Linked DNA regions of Homo sapiens. The protein of the gene in region 3 interacts with the protein of the main gene of each other region in a pairwise test. Each region holds a gene or a part of one and is shown on either strand. Other genes may lie near its edges. The genes, in order: NDUFS1, NUP58 and BRME1.

Region 1 (3,751 bases), on a different chromosome or scaffold from region 3:
GTGAGCCGAGATCACACCACTGCAATCTAGCCTGGGCGACAGAGCAAGACTCTTGTCTCAAAAAAATAAATAAATAAATAAATATAGGAAAAATGTGTACAATACTATTATTGAAAAAGGTTACAAAACAGCATATGTACTAAAATACATTGAATTGTCCACTTCATGAGTAAATTTTAGGGTACATGAATTATATTTCAATAAAGCTATCAACCCCCAAGTGAATAATCTCACTTTTTTTTTTTTAAAGAGACCAGATCTGACTATGTTGCCCAGGCTGGTCTGAAACTCCTGGATTCAAGCCATCTGCCCCCCTCAGCCTCCCAAAATGCTGGAATTACAGGCATGAGCCACTGCACCAGGCCTAATCTCACCTTCTGTTTCACTAAAAAATATATAGGCCAGGGGTGGTGGCTCACATCTGTAGTCCCAGCACTTTGGGAGGCTGAGGTGGGTGGACTGCTTGAGTCCAGGAGTTTGAGATCTGCCTGGGTAACATGGCGAAACCCCATCTCTACAAAAAATACAAAAATTAGCTGGATGTGGTGGTATGCGCCTATAGTCCTAGCTACCGAGGAGGCTGAGGTGGGAGGATCACTTCAGCTCAGGAGGCAGAGGTTGCAGCAAGCCAAGATTGTGCCACTGCACTTCAGCCTGGGTGACAGAGTAAAATCTCATCTCAAAAATTATACACACACACACACACACACACGTACATGTAAACAGTAATAATTACATATAAATAACAATAGTTAATTAATATAATATATATGTGTATAATGCATATGTATGTCCCTGGAGGAAGAGTGACTAAAATGTTAAAAATAATTATAGTTATTTCTTGATAGTGGGAGGGTAGTGATTTTTCTTTTTTTAAAAAAAAAAAAACTTTTAGGTTCAGGGGTACATGTGAAGGCTTTTTACACCAGTAAACTCATGTCACAGGGATTTGTTGTACAGAATACTTCATCACCGAGGAATTAAGCCCAGTACCCAAGACTTATCTTTTCTGCACCTCTCCCTCCTCCCACTCTCCACTCTCAAGTAGACTACAGTGTCTGTTGTTTCCTTCTTTGTGTTCATAAGTTCGCAGATAAATACCATAGAAGTGATTTTTTGTTGTGCTTTTGAGCATAGGTATTATTTTACAATGAAGGTAATCTTTATTATCTAACTAAAATACTTATTTAAAAAATCTTAGATACAAACTATATAAAAAAATTAAGAGTTCTATGTGCTTTTAGATAGAAAATTAGTCAAAATAATCTATCAACTATTAACTACCTCATAACCTAGATGTTGTATCAACTGTTCTAAGAATCTGCAATAAACAAGTTTCAGTTTGTCTGCATTCCTTAAAAACATTCCTAACAATTTACATCAGAAGCACTGTTTAACATGTTTCACATTTAAATGTTTTGATTCTTCCACCTATAATTCTCAGAAAAACCTGCAGTTATTTGCCACTTTGGAAAATTCACCATAAATTGCTACACAGTGACTTTCCTTACAACAGCAAAATTTTATATTTAAAATCTATTAATTGCTTGGATTTTCAAACTTTGCTTACATTTCAGAAACAAAAAAACTAGAGTAGAATCAGAAAATATGCTTACGTTAGTTCCAATGTTTGAAAACCTTCAAAGATTAAGAATTGCAAACACTATCAATCACAAATTGGAATTATAACACCAAATGAGGTGATCTGATTACTTCTTACCTTTCGTATTTGGCAGAGTCATGTTGACAATTACATACCTGTCATGTAGAAGTCTTTTATAGTTAGCTGAGGTGGAACAAGTGGGTCAGCAAGAAGCTGCTGGTTCACTAGCTGCACAAAAAAGAAGAGATCAACAATAATATGGAAAACTAGTACTGTTACACCAGTAGATACAACATTATGAAAACTGCTCATAGGCGAGCTGTTACCTTTGAGAGCTCATTTGCTTGCTGGAAGTAATTAGCCCCTTCAATATCATCATATCGAACAAGATTAGGAGAGACTTCTTCCAATCTGTTCCTTACTTGATCCAGAGTATCATATGGAAGAGTCATTCCAGCAATCTACAACATGTCAGGTCCCCAAAAACAACAAAAAGCTTTAATACTTAAAAATATCAAATAATAGATAATTGTAACTATGGTGAAATAATGCAGCACTACTGAAAAACCTATTGGTGTCCATTAGTAGACATACATTTATGAAGGAAGCAGTTAAGCAGGGAACACAAATATCAAAAATTCTAATTCATTCACAGCTGTCAGTACATTAGTGACTCTATGAAATGAAGAGACAATACTATGCTAAATCCAAATGTTTTTGCTAACCTGTTATTAAAATACATAAAGTTTACAATGTGTTATTATTTTAAAAGTCAGGATGCTTACTTTTACATCAATAAAGAGCTAACAGATGTATTTTCAGGCAAAAGACAAGTCAACAATTTTCAACAATAAAAGCACCAATTTCAGGCCAGGTGCAGTGGCTCACACCTGTAATCCCAGCACTTCGGGAGACCGAGGTGGGAGGACTGCTTGAGGCCCAGGAGTTCAAGACCAGCCTGGCCAACATGGCGAAACCCCATCTCTACTAAAAATATAAAAATTAGCCAGGCTTGGTGGTACATGCGTGTAATCCCAGTTACTCAGGAAGCTTGCGCCCGGGAGGTGGAGGTTGCAGTAAGCTGAGATCACGCCACTGCACTCCAGCCTGGGCAACAGAGAAAAACTCTGTCTCAAAAATAAATAAAATAAAATAAAAGCACCAATTTCAAGTTCCTTTATTTTTTAAGAGACAGGGTCTTGCTCTGTCCCTCAGGCTGGAGTGCAGCGGTGCAATGAGAGCTCACTGTAACCTTGAATTCCTGTTTCTGAATACATGTTTTCTATAGAAATTATTCAAATCATCTCTGCATTTCAGACTGGCATCTTCCTTGACTTTGAAAATCATTCTAACAGGCTAAAATATCAAATATGCCTTTAGTAGCATCACTAAGAAATGACTCAGAAATTATACCTCAGAGAGTGCTCTTATAATTTTCCAGTCTTCTCTTGCCAAGCCAGGAGGTGTCACTGCTACCTTAGTCTGCTGAGCTCTACCCTCAGTGTTGACATATGTAGCAGACTTCTCTGTGTAAGCAGCTCCTGGGAGAATAACATCAGCTATGGGAGCCCCAACATCACCATGATGTCCTGCACAAAGATGGAAAATGGTAAACCAAAATTTTATTAAAAACTGATTTTCTACTGTACATGAAGATAGTATATATCATTTTAAATCCCATTTTGTAAAGTCACAAAAGTTTTTAAAACTAAAATGAAACAGTAGTGAAGTAATAAAAATTAAAGCCCACCTCAACCCTAATTCAACTCCCTTCCCAAAGAAAATTATTATTATTTTTTTGAGATGGAGTCTCGCTCTGTCGCCCAGGCTGGAGTGCAGTGGTGCAATCTTGGCTCACAGCAAGCTCTGCCTCCTGGGTTCATGCCATTCTTCTGTCTCAGCCTCCCAAGTAGCTGGGACTACAGGTGCCTGCCACCACACTCAGCTAATTTTTTGTATTTTTAGTAGAGACAGGGTTTCACCGTGTTTAGCCAGGATGGTCTTGATCTCCTGACCTTGTGATCCACCCGCCTCAGCCTCCCAAAGTGCTGGGATTACAGGCATGAGCCACCGCGCCCGGCCCCAAAGAAAATTATTGTTAAAGCATTTGGGGGCCAGGTGTGGTGGCTCATGCCTGTGATCCCAGCA
Region 2 (3,751 bases), on a different chromosome or scaffold from region 3:
GACAACAGAGCAAGACTGTGTATCTAAAAAAAGAAAAAAAATAGAAATTATGTTACAGTAAGGGTGCTGATTATCTCACGTATGTTAATGTTCCAAATTGATAAAGCTGGCTTAAACCACAATCTCCACTAAGGAAAAACACTACATTATATAATCCAAAAATTTAAATTAATATTTGTATGTTTTCCTTCGTTATATCAGAGTAGATGACAGTCAATGATTGGGCCTATCACTAGCCCTTAATTCCAATTCCTTGCATTTCTTTTCATCTTAGCATTTACCATTTTTTAAGGTCTACTACCAGTGATGATCCTTGTAAAGAGAGATACAGGACACAATTTAGGAAAGAATATCCCAAGCCTACTCTCTGACAATGTGATCAGATCCTCCTCACCTGTATTTGTTCCTCCTAGAGTGAACCCAGTGGCAGGTTTAGATCCAAAGAGCCCGGTTCCAAAACCACTTGAAGGAGCAGATGTAGTTGCTGGAGTTGAAGTACTTCCAAGATTTCCAAAATTGAGCCCCACAGAAGGGTTGCTTATTTAAAGAAACAAAAACAAAACAAAAATCACATGCACAAAAGGAGGTCTACTAGAGCCAATATTTACTTAAGAAAAATAAAAATTAACTCTTCAAGATAATTTCATTCACATAACATATCTAATACATTGTCATAGGACCCAAAAAGAAAAATAAATTTACCTTTAACCCATCAAGTTCAAATATGTTTCTGTTCTTCCTTAAAAATAAATCCACATGTAAAAGTAGTCTTAAAAAAAAATAAATCCACATGTAAAAGTAGTCTTAAAAAATACAATACCAGATTTCAGGCTGGGTGTGGTGGCTCATGCCTGTAATTCCAGCACTTTGGGAGGCCGAGGCAGGTGGATCACAAGGTCAGGAGTTCGAGACCAGCCTGACCAACAGGGTGAAACCTCGTCTCTTCCAAAAATACAAAAATTAGCCAGGTGTGGTGGTGGCACACGCCTGTAATTCCAGCTACTCAGGAGGCTGAGGCAGGAGAATTGCTTGAACCCGGGAGGCAGGTCGCAGTCAGCTGAGATAGTGTCACTGCACTCCAGTTTGAGTGACAGAGCGAGACTCCCTCTCAAAAAAAAAAAAAAAAAAAAATACAATACCAGATTTCAAGAAAAGCAGTCTACAGCAATAAGGATTCCAGATCTCAAGGTAATCATAAGTAGGGATCACAATTATTCTGCTTTCACCAATGTTTGAAACCTAGCATATTTTTAAATGGTCATAGAAAAGTTATTTTAAATTATCTTCACTAGCTTTCCATTGCTACATTACCACATTCATGGGGCAATGTGGTGTTGGGGAGAGTATAGACTTAGGTATTTTACCACCAAAAAAAGCATAGAAAAACTAGTGGGGACATTTCCTGGCAAAAGTTAAACGCAAAGCAAAATCACCCTGTCTCAGGATCATGTATTCATTAACAGAAACTCTTCAGAGCACAGTGCAAAGCTTAAAAAAAGAACAGCTGATAAAAACAAGTGAAAGTGAACAAACTTCACAACTTTTCAACTACTCTTATCAAGACTCAGGGGTTCAGATTTGCTATGAAAAGGTGGGAAGACAAACTGTGAAAATAAGCAAATTTTGACAAGTTGACACTTCCAAAATTATGTAGGAGATTTAAGGGAGACTATACAGCATAATGGCAAATTCTCTTTATCCTACATATTTATCTTTATTATTTCCTTTGCTGCCCTTCCATAAAGAATAATCACCATGGGAGAACCCAATGTCATTTTTAAAGTCTCAAAAGCCCTGGCAGCAGTAGTGTGGCTGGGTTCCAGTACCAATCCCCCCATGTTCTGGTACTTGTGTGCCATTACTTAACCTTTCTGAGCCTCTATTTCCTCATCTGCAAAACAGGAATTAACAGTACCCACTTAGCAGATTTTTTTTTTTTTTTTTTTTTTGAGACGGAGTCTCACTCTGTTGCCCAGGCTGGAGTGCAGTGGCACTCCGCAAGCTCCGGCTCCCGGGTTCACCCCATTCTCCTACCTCAGCCTCCGGAGTAGCTCAGACTATAGGTGCCTGCCACCACACCCAGCTAATTTTTTGTATTTTTACTAGAGACAGGGTTTCACCATGTTAGCCAGGATGGTCTCAATCTCCTGACCTCGTGATCCACCTGCCTCGGCCTCCCAAAGTGCTGGGATTACAGGCGTGAGCCACCGCACCCGGCCAGCAGAATTTTTTTTTAAATATAAGGGTTCAGAGCACAGGATGAATTAACTTCAATAAATGTTGTTATGACTGTTATCATTAGGGATACTTATAAATTTAACTAAACATATTATGTACAAGGCGTTATGCCAGGAATAGCAAGGGAGCAGAAAGATGTCCCCTAGTCAAGGAACATGCCGTTTACCAGGGGGATAAACAACACAAATAACTGTACTCCAAGCCAGAAGAGTTCTCCAAGTTACTTGGGTCCGGGTGTCTTCAATTTCATAATCAGCTTAAGAAGCCACTCAAATTTTTGCAAACACTGGGAGACAAGGAGGAAAAGAAATACTCAAGCAGGAGATAATTCAAGCAGTAGAAATGTACACACCTTCAGTAAGTTTAGAATTACTATAAGTAAGATTATAATCAAGTACCAAACGATGGCAAAGAGATACTGCAGAAGTTTGAGGCAAAGAGCTAATCACTGTGAGGGGAATGGAGGTGGAGGAGCTTATTAAGGGTAGAACTTGAGATGTGCCATCCATACTGAGTAGGTAAAAGGAGAAGTACTGATTTTTAAAATGTGTTTGTGTGCACCTTGGGCATATGAAGGCGAGGCAGGAGACAAAGCAGGGCGGTAAGCTCTCGCTAACAATTAAAACACAGATCTTGACCAGGCCGGGTGGCTCACACCTGTAATCCCAGCACTTTGGGAGGTTGAGGTAGGCAGACTGCTTGAGCCCAGAAGCTTGAGCCCAGCCTGGGCCACATGGTGAAACTCTCTCTACCGAAAAAACAACAACAAAAAACTTCCAAAAAACAAAAATTAGCCAGGCGTGCCAATGCACACCTGAATGTAATCCCAGCTACTCAGGAAGCTGAGGTGGAAAGATCACTTTAGCCCAGGAGGTGGAGGTTGTAGCGGGCTGAGATTGCGCCACTGCATTCCAGCCTGGGAGACAGGGCAAGGCCCTGTCTCAAAAAAAAAAAAAAAAAAAAAAAAAAAAAAACCCCACAGATCTTTAAACATTTAGTCTTAATTTAAAAGGTATTTTTAACAACATATTGCTACAATCAAAACTAAGTGAGATCACACACACAGAAACCTAAGTGAGCGCTACAAGCAAAAGAATATAGTATGTAATGGCTATATCCAGACAACATAGGTAGTACAACCATAAAAGGGGCATATATGCCAAAACATTTAGCTTAGCTGGTAGTAGTCTGATCGTATTGTTATTTTGACACTGTTGTGTGTATAATGTGGAGTAGGGTAAATGAGTATTTGGGGGATACTAAAACATTACTGCCGGCTGGGTGTGGTGGCTCACGCCTGTAATCCCAGCACCTTGGGATGCCAAGGTGGATGGATCACCTGAAGTCAGGAGTTTGAGACCAGCCTGGCCAACATGGTGAAACCCCATCTCTACTAAAAATACCAAAAATAAAAATAAAAAATTTAGCCGGGTGTGGTGGCGTGCCTGTAATCCCAGCTATTTGGGAGGCTGAGGCAGGAGAATTGCTTGAACCCGTAAGGTGGAGGTTGCAA
Region 3 (3,751 bases):
AACCCCAGCACTTTGGGAGGCCGAGGCAGGCGGGTCACCTGAGATGGGGAGTTCGAGACAGACCAGCCTGACCAACAGGGAGAAACCCCGTCTCTACTAAAAAATACAAAATTAACCAGGCATGGTGGCGCATGCCTGTAATCCCAGCTACTCGGGAGGCTGAGGCAGGAGAATCGCTTGAACCCGGGAAGCGGAGGTTGCAGTGGGCCGAGATTGCGCCACTGCACTCCAGCCTGGGGCGAGAGAGCAAGACTCTGTCTCAAAAACAAACAAACAAAAAAAGAACCCCTAACCACAATGCAGGTTTGCCATGCAGACCCGTCTTCCTATCTTGGCTAATGACCAATCATGATGTGATAACATCGTGTTTAACCATATGAAATTGCCTTTCCTGTAGGTAAAAAATGGCCAAATATTGGCAATTATGTATGGTTCCACCAACTAGTAATAATGATAATAGTAACATTTATTGAGTGCTATGTTCTAGCACTTTCCATAAACTATCTCAATGACTCTCTACAACTGTCCTGTAATGTAGGGTCTCTTGGAGGTCTCCATTTTTAATTTTTTATTTATTTATTTATTTTCAGAAGGAATTTATTTATTTATTTTGAGAAGGAGCCTTGCTCTGTCACCCAGTCTGGAATGCAGTGGCGCGATCTCAGCTCACTGCAACCTCCGCCTCTCGGTTCAAGCGATTCTCCCACCTCAGCCTCCCGAGTAGCTGGGATTACAGGTGCCCGCCACCATGCCCAGCTAATTTTTGTATTTTTAGTAGAGATGGGGTTTCGCCATGGCCTCCCAAAGTGCTGGGATTACAGGTGTGAGACACCACCCCGGACTTCCATTTTTAATTTTTTATCTTTATTTTAGAGAAAGAGTCTTGTTCTGTCACCCAGGCTGGAGCAGAAGTAGCGCAATCATAGCTCACTGCGGTCTTGAACTCCTGGGCTCAAGCAATCCTCCCTTCTTAGCCTCCCAAGTAGTAGTACTACAGGCACATGCCACCATGCCCAGTTAGTCTTTTTTTGTCGAGACGGGGGTCTTGCTTTTGCCCAGGCTGGTCTCAAACTCTGGCCTCAAATGACTCTCCCACCTCTGCCTCCGCCTCCATCTCCTGAAGTGCTGGGATTATAGAGATCTCCATTTTACAGATGAGAAAGCTGAGGCTCAGAGCTGTAAAGTCAAGTGTCCGATGTACAGAGGCCAGGAGGGAACTTCAGGTCAGCCAGACTCTAATATCTGAACACCAAGCTATGTCCTGGGCTCCTTCCATCAAAACTGAGAAAAATCAAACTATCTGGTGCCTGGGGCAAAGAAGTCGGGAGAGTGAGAAGGGGTCCAGCCACAGTGCCATAAGCTTATGGCTGCAGCCCTGGATTTGTGCTTAGCCCTGGCCAAGCTGTTAATCCCTATGACCTTGGGCAGATGTCTTCACGTCTCTGAGTCTCAAAGTCCTCATCTGTACAATGGAATAAAAAGAGTCTGACATGGCCCGACTGATGCAAGGGTTTGATGTGTCAAGTCCGAGGACTGCCCCTCCTCGACTGGAGCAGCTGTGGCAACAGGTGGCCCCGAACCCGGGGCAGGGCCCCAGGAGCTGGGGAGCCAAGGCCAGTAGGCCACACTTGGGTGGTGTTGGAGCCTCACCTGGGGGGAGGCGGGGACCGGGGCTTACCTGTGGGGCGGAGATCGGGCTTCCCTGGGGGGTGGGGCCCTTCCCTGAGCGAGTGACGGGGGTGGGGAGGGATCCCCAGGTCGGGCCGTGGGGCGCAAACTCACCTGGCGGGCGGCCGCGGCGCCTCTGCCCGGGGGTCCCGGGGGTCCTTTCCTCTTGTGCATCTTCAAGGCTGGATGCCCGGACCACCTGCCCCCAAGCCCGGCCTTGCCCTGCCTCCTTCCCCGGGCTCTGTCGCCGCGCACTCGCCCTTCCTGAGTCCTGCACTCCTCGTCGGCGCCCCGCGGCCGTCGATCCCGAGCCCTCGCTTCCCTGCTTGGCCGTCCCACTTCCGCCTCGGGCCTCGGGCGCCGCCGCACCGGAGCGCGGCCACTGGGCTCGCCGGGTCTGCCGAGCCGAAACTACAACTCCCGGCAGGTAGTGCGTGGGCGCGCAGGCGCCTGGCTGGGGCGGTGCTGACTGTCGCGGGCTGCGAGGGCGGTGTTTGCGTCGCTCATGCGCGGGGCGGGACCTCGCGGGGCGCGGGAAAGAGGCAGAGCGCGCGCAGGTGTGAGGGGCGGCGACATCTGTGGGGTTCAGAGCGTCTGTCAGTCACCGACGGGCTCCGGCTTCACGTGGGCTCTCGGCCTGTGGAGTCCTCACTTCTCGGTGGTCGGCGTAGTGTCAGTGTGGGGCTTGTCACCGGGAGCGGGGTCTACAGCGCCCACCCTCAGGCCTTTCCATCTTTCACCTCCGGACTCGAGGCCTCCAGCGTTCTGTGAGGGCCAATTTGGCCATTTATTTTTTCCAAAAAGAGTAACGCGGATAATTCAAGCGACTTATTCCCAACTGATCCAGGCAGAGCTCGTTTCTGATAAGGACAGAGGGTCCTCAACGACTTCTGTGGCCCAGGTCCGTTCTGGTTTGCCTCGCCCCCAAGGCTGGGAGAAACCGGCCTATGGCAGCTCTTTCCCCTCCAAGGACCCAGCTGTCCCCTTTAAAGTGGCACGATCTTGGCTCATTGCAACCTCTGCCTCCTGGCCTTGTACCACAGCCTCCTGAGTAGCTGGGATTACGGGTGTGTGCCACCGCACCTGACTAATTTTTTTTTTTTTTTTTGAGACGGAGTCTCGCTCTGTCGCCCAGGCTGGAGTGCAGTAGAGCGATCTCGGCTCACTGCAACCTCTGCCTCATGGGTTCAAGGAATTCTACTGTCTCAGCCTCCCAAGTAGCTGGGATTACAGGTGTGCGTCACGATGCCCAGGCTAATTTTTGTGTTTTTAATAGAGAGGGGGTTTCACCATATTGGCCAGGCTGGTCTCCAGAGGCCCCTGGAGAGTCCTCAAGTGTCCTTGGAAGGGCCCCCAGATACCCCAGTCTGGAGGGAGGGGCTTCACACAGGCTGTTTCATCCTAGGGACCAGAGTCTGGGTCCCCGGGGCTATCTATAAGGACCCCCCAGGGCCCATTTGTCTTTCAGGTCCTGGGCATAAGATCTTCAGTTTGGAGGAGGTTTGAATTCCTACCTGGCCATGGCCCAAAGTGGCTGTGACTCTGTGTCCCATCCTGTGTCCCAGTGGGAGCCATCTGACCCCTGGGGCAGCCAAATGGGCTGAGGTGGAGGTAGGGGTAACCTCTGCTCTCAGCCAAAGCCACTGGATATAAACAGAGACAGAGACTGCTTATAATGATGAGAGATTTTGCTTGTTTTCAGATTTCTCAAGGGGAAGATAAAATGACTAAGAGGAAGAAGCTGCGGACCTCAGGTACGTTCATTCAAATGGACACTTGTTGATTTCTGCTTCTGCTTGTGGGAAGAATGTGGGCTTGTTTATTGCAGATCTGGCTAACACGACTGCCTTAACCTCCTTAAAAGGAAGCAAGGATTGGCCGGGTGCGGTGGCTCACACCTGTAATCTCAGCACTTTGGGAGGCCGAGGCGGGCAGATCACAAGGTCAGGAGTTCAAGACCAGCCTGACCAACATGGTGAAACCCCGTCTCTACTAAAAATACAAAAATTAGCCAGGTGTTGTGGCACATGCCTGTAGTCCCACCTACTCGGGAGACTGAGGCAGGAGAATCGTTTGAACCTGG

Evidence for each region.
Region 1: the proteins of BRME1 (region 3) and NDUFS1 interact in binary tests that used the Homo sapiens proteins (3 or more experiments, as listed by UniProt).
Region 2: the proteins of BRME1 (region 3) and NUP58 interact in binary tests that used the Homo sapiens proteins (3 or more experiments, as listed by UniProt).

The regions. Positions count from the first base shown.
Region 1 is NC_000002.12:206,124,781-206,128,531, forward strand, and holds part of NDUFS1 (NADH-ubiquinone oxidoreductase 75 kDa subunit, mitochondrial isoform 1 precursor), read right to left. Parts: intron 3,193-3,751; coding exon 3,017-3,192; intron 2,065-3,016; coding exon 1,930-2,064; intron 1,832-1,929; coding exon 1,759-1,831; intron 1-1,758.
Region 2 is NC_000013.11:25,304,592-25,308,342, reverse strand, and holds part of NUP58 (nucleoporin p58/p45), read right to left. Parts: intron 740-3,751; exon of another isoform or gene 703-739; intron 538-702; coding exon 395-537; intron 1-394. UniProt on the Homo sapiens protein: Component of the nuclear pore complex, a complex required for the trafficking across the nuclear membrane.
Region 3 is NC_000019.10:13,904,533-13,908,283, reverse strand, and holds the start of BRME1 (break repair meiotic recombinase recruitment factor 1), read left to right. Parts: upstream 1-2,166; 5' UTR 2,167-2,173; coding exon of another isoform or gene 2,174-2,569; intron 2,570-3,370; coding exon of another isoform or gene 3,371-3,391; coding exon 3,392-3,422; intron 3,423-3,751. Other genes in the region: CC2D1A (coiled-coil and C2 domain-containing protein 1A), read right to left, coding at 1,783-1,842. UniProt on the Homo sapiens protein: Meiotic recombination factor component of recombination bridges involved in meiotic double-strand break repair.